Homo sapiens: one gene and its partner. The protein of the gene in region 1 purifies or fractionates together with the protein of each later gene. This does not show direct contact. Each region holds a gene or a part of one and is shown in the gene's direction. Other genes may lie near its edges.

Region 1 (2,641 bases):
ACTCATCAGTGCTGTCCCTGTCAGAGGACGAGGCCCATGAAGGCTCCTGAGTTCTCCCTGGAGCCAGGGGTGTGCGAATGACAGAGGATTGGGATCCTGGTGCCCCCAAGGGGAGAGGCGCTTCCTCCAGGGTGGGCCTGTCGTGCCGTCCATCCTCACTCCGGGAGATGCTCAGGGATGGATGGAGAGCCCTTCCCGTTCTCCCGGTTCTGCTGCCACAGGAGCCTTCTCAGCCGTGCACGGCACCCTGGTCCCACTTTGCCAGCCTGAGGGCCTCTGGGTTCAATTCCCCCCACGGTGGGCGAGGTCCCCTTCCCCAGCCCAGCTCAGGCCTCCAGACTGGGATGGGGTGCCGTCGGCCCAGTGCTGCCTCGAGCACCCACATCTCGTCCTGGCACCCACAGGCAGAGACCCCAAGAACAACCTGGAAGCCTTGGAGGACTTTGAGAAAGCCGCAGGAGCCCGCGGACTCAGCACGGAGAGCATCCTCATCCCCAGGCAGAGCGGTAGGAGGCATGGCCCTGCAGAGCCCCCCATGTCCCCGCGTGGGGACATCAGCAGAGCTGCATTGCACGGGCGCATAACTGTGCTGCGTCTAATTCTGGCTTTGTCCTTCCTGGGGTGGTGGAGCTGGTGGCTGATGAGGGGCCCCGGTCCTGACTGCATTCCTGGGGTCTCCTAACGCCTGTGCTTCCTTTTCCTGCAGAAACCTGCTCTCCAGGGAGCGATTAGGGTGAGTGAACAGCTTTAGAGGACATTTGAGAAAATCCAGTTCTGGGGCTCAGTGGTGCTTCCAGAGGCCATGGGGTCTCTCCCACCCATCCCACTCCTACCTGGGTGGGAGATGCCCCACGTAGGTCAGGCAGGTGGGAGCTCTGCTCCTGAGCTGCCCACGCTCGGGCGTCAGACTCCGTTCTTGCCCTGGGTGTGACTCCTGGGCAGCTGGGAAGCCCACAGCGCTGAGCCCGCCTTTGCTGGCTGCTGGTGGAGACGGTGTCTACCCCCCAGTCACATGGGCAGGAGCAGGCAGGAGATTCGGGTTCCTCCTCAGCACCCCTCACCCTCGGCCATGCCTGTGACTCCACTTACCCGATAAGTTGCTCAAAGATTCAGCAAAGTGGCAGGCGTGCCTGTGCTCGCTGTGTCAGATGGGCCCCTTGCTGGCTGCACAAGGGGACCAGAGTTTGGAGACTCGCCCAAGGTCACCTGCCCAGGTGTGGGCAGAGCCAGAATCCTGGACAGCATCGCTGTCCTTCCCGCACCCTCCCCTTGGCCTGCAGTCACCCTGATGCCACTTCACTCAGCAGGGAGCTCTGTCAGCAGCCTGCGGGGGTGGTCCCTGCTCCATCCGCTCCAATCTAGAGGCTGGAGCCCCCACCTGCAGCCCCCAAGAGTCCGTGTGTGCCCCCCACACCATCGCCCCCAAGAGCTCGCATGTGCCCACCACACCATAGCCCCCTAGAGCCCGGTGCACGTCCCCCACACCATTGCCTCTGAGATCCAGCACGTGCCCCCGCAACCATCGCCCCCGAGAGCCCGCATGTGCCTTCCACCGTAACCCTCAAGAGCCCAGTGTGTACCCCCACCATAGCCCCCGAGAGCCCACATGTGCCCACACACCATAGCCCCCGAGAGCCCACATGTGCCCCCCACACCATGCCCCTGAGAGCCCACATGTGCCCCCCACACCATCACCCCTGAGAGCCTGCTGTGCCCCCCACACCATAGCCCCCGAGAGCCTGCATGTGCCCTCCACATCACAGCCCCCAAGAGTGCAGCGTGTGCCCCCCACACCATGCCCCTGAGAGCTCACATGGGCCCCCACACTGCAGCACCCAAGAGCCCACATGCGCCCCCACATTGCATCCCCCTCCCACCCTTGCTGTCCTGGCCTCACTCACCCTCCCCCCCTTTCCAGGGCAGGGGACACCTTGGCTCCTCAGCAGCCCAAGGACGGCACCATCCAGCACCTCCGTCATTCACAGGGACATGGAAAAAGCTCCCCACCCCTGCAGAACGCGGCTGGCTGCACCCCTTCCTACCACCCCCCGCCTTCCCCCTGCCCTGCGCCCCCTCTCCTGGTTCTCCATAAAGAGCTTCAGCAGTTCCCAGTGACTCCGCCTGTCTGTGGGGTCCCTCGGGGTGAGAGGTGCTGGCTGGGTGCTCTTTTGGGTGCAGGGACTGGGTGGGAAGCAGGAGGAAGGACAGGGAACCAGCCTGGACCCAGTTCTCCCTGGTGGGTGCCACAGGCCAACAGTGGGAGGGGCCTAGCAGGGGGGTGTGTGCTGGAGGCTGGGCCTGAAGGTCCCGGGGTGCTTCCTGCAGGTCAGCCGCCCGCTGAGCTCAGGCTGTAGGGGTTGCGGGGGTGGGGGCAGGGCTCCACTCCTCGGTCCTGCACAAGTAAGACCGGAAGGCCTGGGACCAAGCGCAGCTGCCACCCAGAGGGGACTGGGCAGAGCCACCAGTGCCCTCAGCACTGATGCTGAGTCCGTGAGGCTGGACGTGGGGGGAGGGGACAGCAGCTCAAGGCAGGGTGTGGCTCGGGCTTGAGCTCACCGGGGAAGCCAGTCCTGTCCTCCGGGGAGCCACACCAGCACTGCCCCCAGAGCCTGGCTCCACGCTGTCCCTCTCTGTGCCTGGG
Region 2 (7,040 bases), on another chromosome or scaffold:
CTCTCTCTTATTGTGTTCACTTCCCTTCCCTTTTTTCCCTCTTCTTCCCCTCCTCCTCACCCCCTTCCCTTCTATTCCCATTTGTCCTCTCCCCATCTCTATGTCTCATCTTATTTTTTCTTCCCATATGGTCCTCCACCTCTCTCTGCTTTTTCTCGGTGTCTCGGTCTCTTTTTCTGTGTGTGCAGTTCTCACCTCTGCCATTCTTTTGGGCCCCTGTCTTTTTCTCTGTGTCTATATCTCTAACTCTCTCTTTTTACATCTCTCTCTCTATGTCTCTTCATCTCCATATCTCTCTAGCTTATCCTCTTTTTGCCTTTCTCCCCATCCCTTAATTGCACCAGATAACAAAAAGGGTGGCGGTTCCATCCAAACCTTGCTCTTGAAAAACGTTCTTTTAAATATGCAGTGAATGATCCCACCAGGACCACTGCCTGCAAGGCCGTCTTTCCCTCTGGTCTCTGCACAGCAAATGCAGCCGACCACCAAACGGGACCCTCATCCGATTCTGTGCTTTGATCTTTGCCAGGCTAAAGTGTGGGTTTACTTTCTGTTCAGAACCCGAGCCTCCTTCCCATTGATCATTCGTCTTTCGTTACGATGCTAACACCTAACAAGGGGCACCGCTTTTCCAGGTTCAGGGGCTCCCTTTGCCAACCACCTGGAGACCCACAAGGGTGAACTTTACACTTTCGAGTGTGGGGCAAAAGCTTCTGAAATGGTTTCAACGTCAGGAATGTGAGAGTTTGGGAGGTTATCCGAAAGACACTCGATACATATTTAGGCCTCAGGATGGTTTGTGGCGTGGTCAGCAGACTGACTCTGAAATCTTATTCTGCTGTTTCCTTGCTTCTTGGTCTTGGCCCAGTCTTTTAGACTCTGAGCCTCTGTTTTCCCCATCTGGAAATGGAACTAATAGTTCCCAACCCACTGGATTCTCTTCAAGAGAAGAGAGAAATAATTGAGATAAAGTGGACAGCAAAGAGCTTGTCCCTTCTCATAGCTACACCCTAAATGAGGAATGCGATGGACTTAGAGAATTCCAACTCTGCCATGCTCTGTGACCACGGAGAGGCACTTTGTCACTTGATCCTCACCTTCCCATCTGGATCCCAAGCTGTAATATTAGCCCCTGCCCCGTAGGGTCCACGGGAGGCACCTGGAGTGCACGGGGCTGGTGCAGAACAGCGTCTCAGTCCTTGCTGGCTGTTAGGATGGTTGTCATTGCAGGGTCATTGAAACAATGGCATCTCTTTAGTGGGAGTCACGGTTCAGGTGTGGGAGGCTGGAGTTCTGTCTCCATTTCCCTCGTGACTCATGATATGACCTTAAACAAGTGACTTCATTTCTACCTTTTCCCATTTCCTCTTTCATCAAATAGGGGTAATCATATGCGCTAAAGTGCTCAGAGAGATAATTGCAATGTTAAATCAAGCCATTATTATTCCATGCTGGCTTTTTAAATAAAAACGCTTGCGGCTCCTCTGAGCCCTCAGCTGACTACAATATAGAAATATCATCGAGAAGCCAAGACGTCAAAAAGATCATTCCCTTTCAAGGAACTCTGGGCCCTGGGTGAAAAGAGGGTCTACCTTGTGCTGGCCCTTTAAGCAGTGCTGTCTCAGTGCAGGAAGATGATACACCCCAATCACAGATGAGAAGACTGAGGCTTGTGGAGGAGGTGGCACCAAATGACCGCAGAGCCCATGCCTTTCCCTCTCAAGGAAAAGGTAAATCCCAAGGCAAGCCTCCCCAGGTCCTCTCAGTATTTGCCAGGAGAGCAGTCCAGGCAACTAGAAAGGGCTCAGGGCTGAAGAATGGGGCCAGTTGCTTCCTGCCTCTTCCATCAGGAAACCCACCTGACCTCCTGGCAAGAGATCCATCCACTAGCAAGGCATAAAAAATGTTTTATTATTTAAGAATATGTTCAAGTGCCTGAGGACTCAAGAAAATTAGCTTAAAAACTATTAGAATCATAAAATGTTTATAAAACCAGTCAAAGTACGGTCAGCAAACCTTGTCTGTAAAGGACCAGAGAGTAAATATTTTGGGCTTTCTTGGCCCTACAGTCTCTGTTTCAGCAATTAACTCAGCTTTTGCAGCATGAAAACAACCACAGACATAGATGCAAACAAAGGGGCATGGGTGTCGTATTAGCCAAGGTTCTCCAGGGAGGCAGAGCCAACAAGGTGTGCCTATCCGCAGAAAGAGATTGACGTAAGGAATTGGCTCATGTGATTAGGCAGGCTGGTGAGTCTGAAACAACCCCACCTGTTAGGGGAGAATCACCCCACTGCCCCATCAGCCCCTCTTTCCCCTACTGGGCTATTACAAAGCACCCGAGGTAGCAGCTGAGAAAAAGCTTCACAAACTGCCAAGTGCAAAGGACTTTTCCTTGTGTGGCCTCCGGGTCCTTGGCCAAGTCTGTGAAAGAAGACCATGCAGGCCCTCCATCAGGGTCAGATACTGACATCATGCCTCCCGCTTACCAAGGGGGCTTGCTTCCCACTTCTCATCCCGATGATCGGCAAAGTTCCTTTCCTCCTTGGCCCATCCCTAATCAGACATGATAGGCAGGCAGGGCTCTCTCTTATGTGTGACTTCCCAGCTCCATTCCTTGGCAAATCCCCATCAGAAAGGTCGAAATGCTTCCCCTGGGGCCCATCTGACATTGTTCAGTAATGTATTTATCCTATAAAAGGAAGGAAATAGGATCACCTATGAAATTGTGAGGGCCAATGTGTCTCTACTAGGGTCCCCTTTTAACCCGGAGGGATCTGGACAGGAGCCCAACTCCCCCATTCATAACTCCAGGTGAACTTGGATGAGCAAGTTCCCCTTTCTCAGCCTCAGTCTGGCCCTCTGTAAAATGGATATTAAAAGAAAAACATGCACCTCTGGGGCTGCTGTGAGGATTGGAGCTAATATGTACAAAGCAGTAATGCACAGCCTGGCACCCAGTAGGCTCCTGAGAATCGGTGGCTGTTGCTGGGTTGACAGGATCATGGATGAAGGGCATTCAGCCCAGACCAACACCCAGCAGGCCCTCCGTCCACGGCAGTGAGTCATGCAGCAGCATTTTTTGTTTCTGCAGTGTGCCAAGCTCTTTATGATCTCTCCTTTTTGCCCTCTTCTTTTCCTATCCCCTACAGCTCAAGTAAGACTAGACTGGAGTCTTCATACTCCCCTCTCCAAAGCACCTACTATGTGCCAGGTGCTTCAAGCACAAGCTAGGTGCTTCAAATGTGATCATTTATTTAGTTCCTATGTCCACCCTCTGAAGCATTATTATTAGCCCCATTTTGTAGCTGAGAAAACTGAGGCACAGTAAAGCTAAGTCATTTTCCTAAAGTGGTGGTAAGTGGTGGGCTGAGACCTGAGCCCACTTTACTGACCACTTGGTGATCCTGCTTCGGGGTCAGGAAAGAATTTGAGGTCCTACCTCTCCTTTCTCAACAGCTGTGTCCCTTCCACCCCATGCTGCTTCTCCGAGTTAGAGTGGGTAATTCAGGGGCTGCAGACTCACTTGTCTGTCAGGCAGTCGGCAGTGAGGGAAGCCCCAGGTGGTTCCGCGGGTGGCGATGGGCAGTATGGCTCTTCCTCTGTGACTGTTGCCATATTGGAATACAGGCTCAATGTCCCCAGGCCTTTTGTTTTTTCAAGACAAATTGAAAATTGAGATTTTTTTAAATGTAAAAATTGCCTAATTTTAAAATATTGCCTGTTTATTTTCATAACTAATTGGTGTGCAGCTCCTGCTCTCATTCTAGCCCTGTATGAGGTACTGGGACACCATTCATTCATTCATTCATTCATTCATTCATCAATCACTCAAACTTCCTTAGTCTTCCAGTCACATTTAGATCAAATGCAAACTCTCCCTTGGCCTATGAGAGCCGGCATTATCCATCCTCTGCCCACCTCTTTGCTTTTTCACCCCAGTCTCTCCCTTACGTCCCTTCATGCACCCTGGCCTCTTTGTCATCCTCAAGCACAACACACTCGCACCTCAGCGACCCCCCTACCTGCCCATAAGGGACTGACAGGTAAGTGGTAATTTTGTGATGGAGCCAGCATAGGAGGCCGTGGGAGCTCAAAGGAGGGAACTAATCCAGATAGACTTCCTGGAAGAGGCAACTGAGGCTGAGTTTTGAATAATGAGTAAGAATTAGCCAGGTCAAAGTGTGATGGGAGTGGATGAGTGGGTTGAGAAAGATGTTCCTGTCAGAGGAAACCCTTTGTGCAAAGGCTTGGAGGGTGGGGTGTGTGGAGCATTTGTTTTGAAATTGCAGGTGGTTTGGTCAAGCCCAGGATGGGCAGAACTCACATCCAATCTGTCTGGGTGCTGTGTACTTGCTGGGATAGCTTGGACAGACTATATGATCTTTCTGTGTCCCATTTTCTCATCCATAAATGGGGAGAATATTAGTCCCAGTCTTACGGAGTTGTCAGAAGGACCCCCTTACAATAAGACACACAGAGTTCTGAGCACAGGGGCAGGCACACAGGGAGCACTAGCAAATGTCAGCTGTTGGTATTAGGAGAGCCCGGGGCTGCTAGGTGATGGGGACAATCTTCCTCTGGAAGCCAGTGGACACAGGGCAGAGGTGCAGTCAGATCTGCATTTCAGAAGGGTCCTCCAGCTGCTGCGTGGAAAGTGTCTAGGAGGGAAAGATTGGAGGCTACTCCAGAACCAGGTGGAGGGTCCACCTGGAGGGAGAAGCTGGAGGCTGGAGATGAGAGGACTGAAGGGGCCTGGGCAGTACACAGCAGTTACGAAGGTAGCTCTGGAGCCAGACAGCCTGGTAGGAATCCCAGCTTTGCCACTTACTCACTGTAGAATCTTGGCAGGCTCTAGAATCTTAACTCAGTTTCCTCATCTGTAAAGTGGGCATGGCAACAGCACCAGTGCTGTAGAGTTTCTGTGAATATGTATGAGTTAATCCACGAGAACTGCTCAGAACATCGTGAGTACTTCATTACCTTCAGATCAACCAGAATTATCATTCAATATAAAGTTAATGGATGAAAGACAAGGATGCCAATGCTGTTTTTGCCTGAGATAAAGAGATCTTAACGTGAGTCCCCTACCTTTGCAGCTAAGCTGTGTGGGAAGCCTTCGGCCAGGAGTTAGATGGTGTGGTAGGCGCCCCCTCCCCAGTAGGTTAATTCACTGCTGATCTTCTAACAGGCCAGCCCAGCCATCACTGATATCAGAGAAAACATGAGCTGCCCGCTTTGTATGGCTCACTGGTGGGGAACTGTAATCCACTCCGCAGCTGACAGACTCAAGGGGAAGAGAAAGACACAGGAGGGACACAAGTCCGCTTCCCTGACTTTTCCACTGAGCCTCCCTGGTTCAGGGGAGCCGACCTTGCCAGCCTCAAGCGAGGCACATGGGCCTGAGCTTATGCCTCGAATTGCTATGTGACCTCAGGAGATTTACTAAGCCTCTCTGAGCACCAGTTTTCTTGTCTATAAAGTGGGGCTAGTGATACCCACCTCTCACAGTTTGTGGGTAGGCTAAGTACAATACACAGGTCAAGGGCCTTGTATATAAAGCCCCTTGGATCTCACGGAGGGTGCAGCTGCCACTGAATTGAAGTTGCTCTAGAAATTGTAGTCATTAAGTGTAGGGGGTCAAACAGAGCAGGCCTTGCACCCCAGCTTCACTATTCGAGGTAGAACATGGGCAATTCACCAGACCAGAAGTGCCCGCTTCCCTGAAGGAATAAATGAGGTGATGAATTGAAGAGCTTAGAGCAGTAGGGATCTGATAAATGGCGGCTGGGATCACTATTAGGCATGCTCTGGTGGGGGAGCCTACTGCATGCTTTAACGGGGAGACCCTGCTCTGGCTACAGCGTGGGGTTCTGGGGCCCGTGGAGTGGAAGCTTCAAAACACTCTGAGCACCTGAGCAAACACGGCAGTTTGCAGGGATGGGGAAGTTGGAGGAAAAGAGGACAGCCTTTTCTGAGAGTAAATTGGTGTTGTCAGGTTACAAAGACCATGCTGGGCGAAGCATGAAGCCCCTGGCCAGGGTGGGGTGGAGTGTCTTAGAGGATCCAGTTGAAAGAACTGTACTGCGCCCCCATAAATCAAATATCGAGGCCCTGAGTCTTGATGTCTGATTTATAAAGCGCTGACTATGAAACAGACAACTTTTTTTTTTTGAGATGGAGTCTCACTGTGTTGCCCAGGCTGGAGTGCAGTGGCACAATCTCTGCTCACTGCAACCTCTTCCTCCTGGGTTCAAATGATTCTCCTGCCTCAGCTTCCTGAGTAGATGGGGCTACAGGTACATGCCACTCTTCCCAGCTAATTTTTGTATTTTTAATGGAGATGGGGTTTCACTATGTTGGTCAGGCTGGTCTCAAATTCCTGAACTCAAGTGATCTGTCCGCCTCAGCCTCTCAAAGTGCTGGGATTACAGGTGTAAGCCACCATGCCCTGCAAAACAGACAACTTTTAACAGAGTATTTATGAAGCATTAATTCATCTGCCAAGAATTTATGGAGGACCTGCGATGTGCTGGCCGGGGTTTTAGGAGCTAGTATACAGCAGAGAATAAGACAGGGTCTGTGTCCCCAAGGAGCTAACATTCTATTGGGGAGGCAATAACCACAACATACACACCACCAACAACAACCAAGCATCAGATAGATAGGAGACTATGAGGTGGGAGTGTTCTGATGCAAACAAAGGGTGATGTAAGAGAGAGACCAAGGAAGCCTCATTAGACATAGTGATCAGTAAATGCCTCTCTGCCAATGTGACAACTAATTTAATGACAAAGAAGGAACTAGTGATGTAGAAGTCTGAGGTCAAAATACTGCAGGCAGAAGAACAGAAAGTGCAAAGGCCCTGAGGTAGGAGCAAGCTTATTTGAGGAACAGAGTGACTATTTCAGAGAAAAAGACAAGACGTGGAACCAAATCCTGAAGACTCGCATAGCTAATTACCAAATAGTAGACTATTTTCATGGAAGAGGCACATGTTGCTGGGAGAATAGAAAGGAGGAGCAGCTCACCTAGCCTAG

What was found.
Region 2: the proteins of LCN1 (region 1) and PDYN purify together in Homo sapiens (affinity purification with mass spectrometry; 3 studies listed by BioGRID and IntAct, with this or other methods). This does not show direct contact.

The regions. Positions count from the first base shown.
Region 1 is NC_000009.12:135,524,426-135,527,066, forward strand, and holds the end of LCN1 (lipocalin-1 isoform 1 precursor), read left to right. Parts: exon of another isoform or gene 1-77; coding exon of another isoform or gene 78-404; coding exon 405-506; coding exon of another isoform or gene 507-682; exon of another isoform or gene 683-706; coding exon 707-732; coding exon of another isoform or gene 733-733; intron 734-1,918; coding exon of another isoform or gene 1,919-2,092; 3' UTR 2,093-2,115; downstream 2,116-2,641. UniProt on the Homo sapiens protein: Could play a role in taste reception. Could be necessary for the concentration and delivery of sapid molecules in the gustatory system.
Region 2 is NC_000020.11:1,984,033-1,991,072, reverse strand, and holds part of PDYN (proenkephalin-B preproprotein), read left to right. Parts: intron 1-4,120; exon of another isoform or gene 4,121-4,967; intron 4,968-4,973; exon of another isoform or gene 4,974-5,078; intron 5,079-6,656; exon of another isoform or gene 6,657-7,040.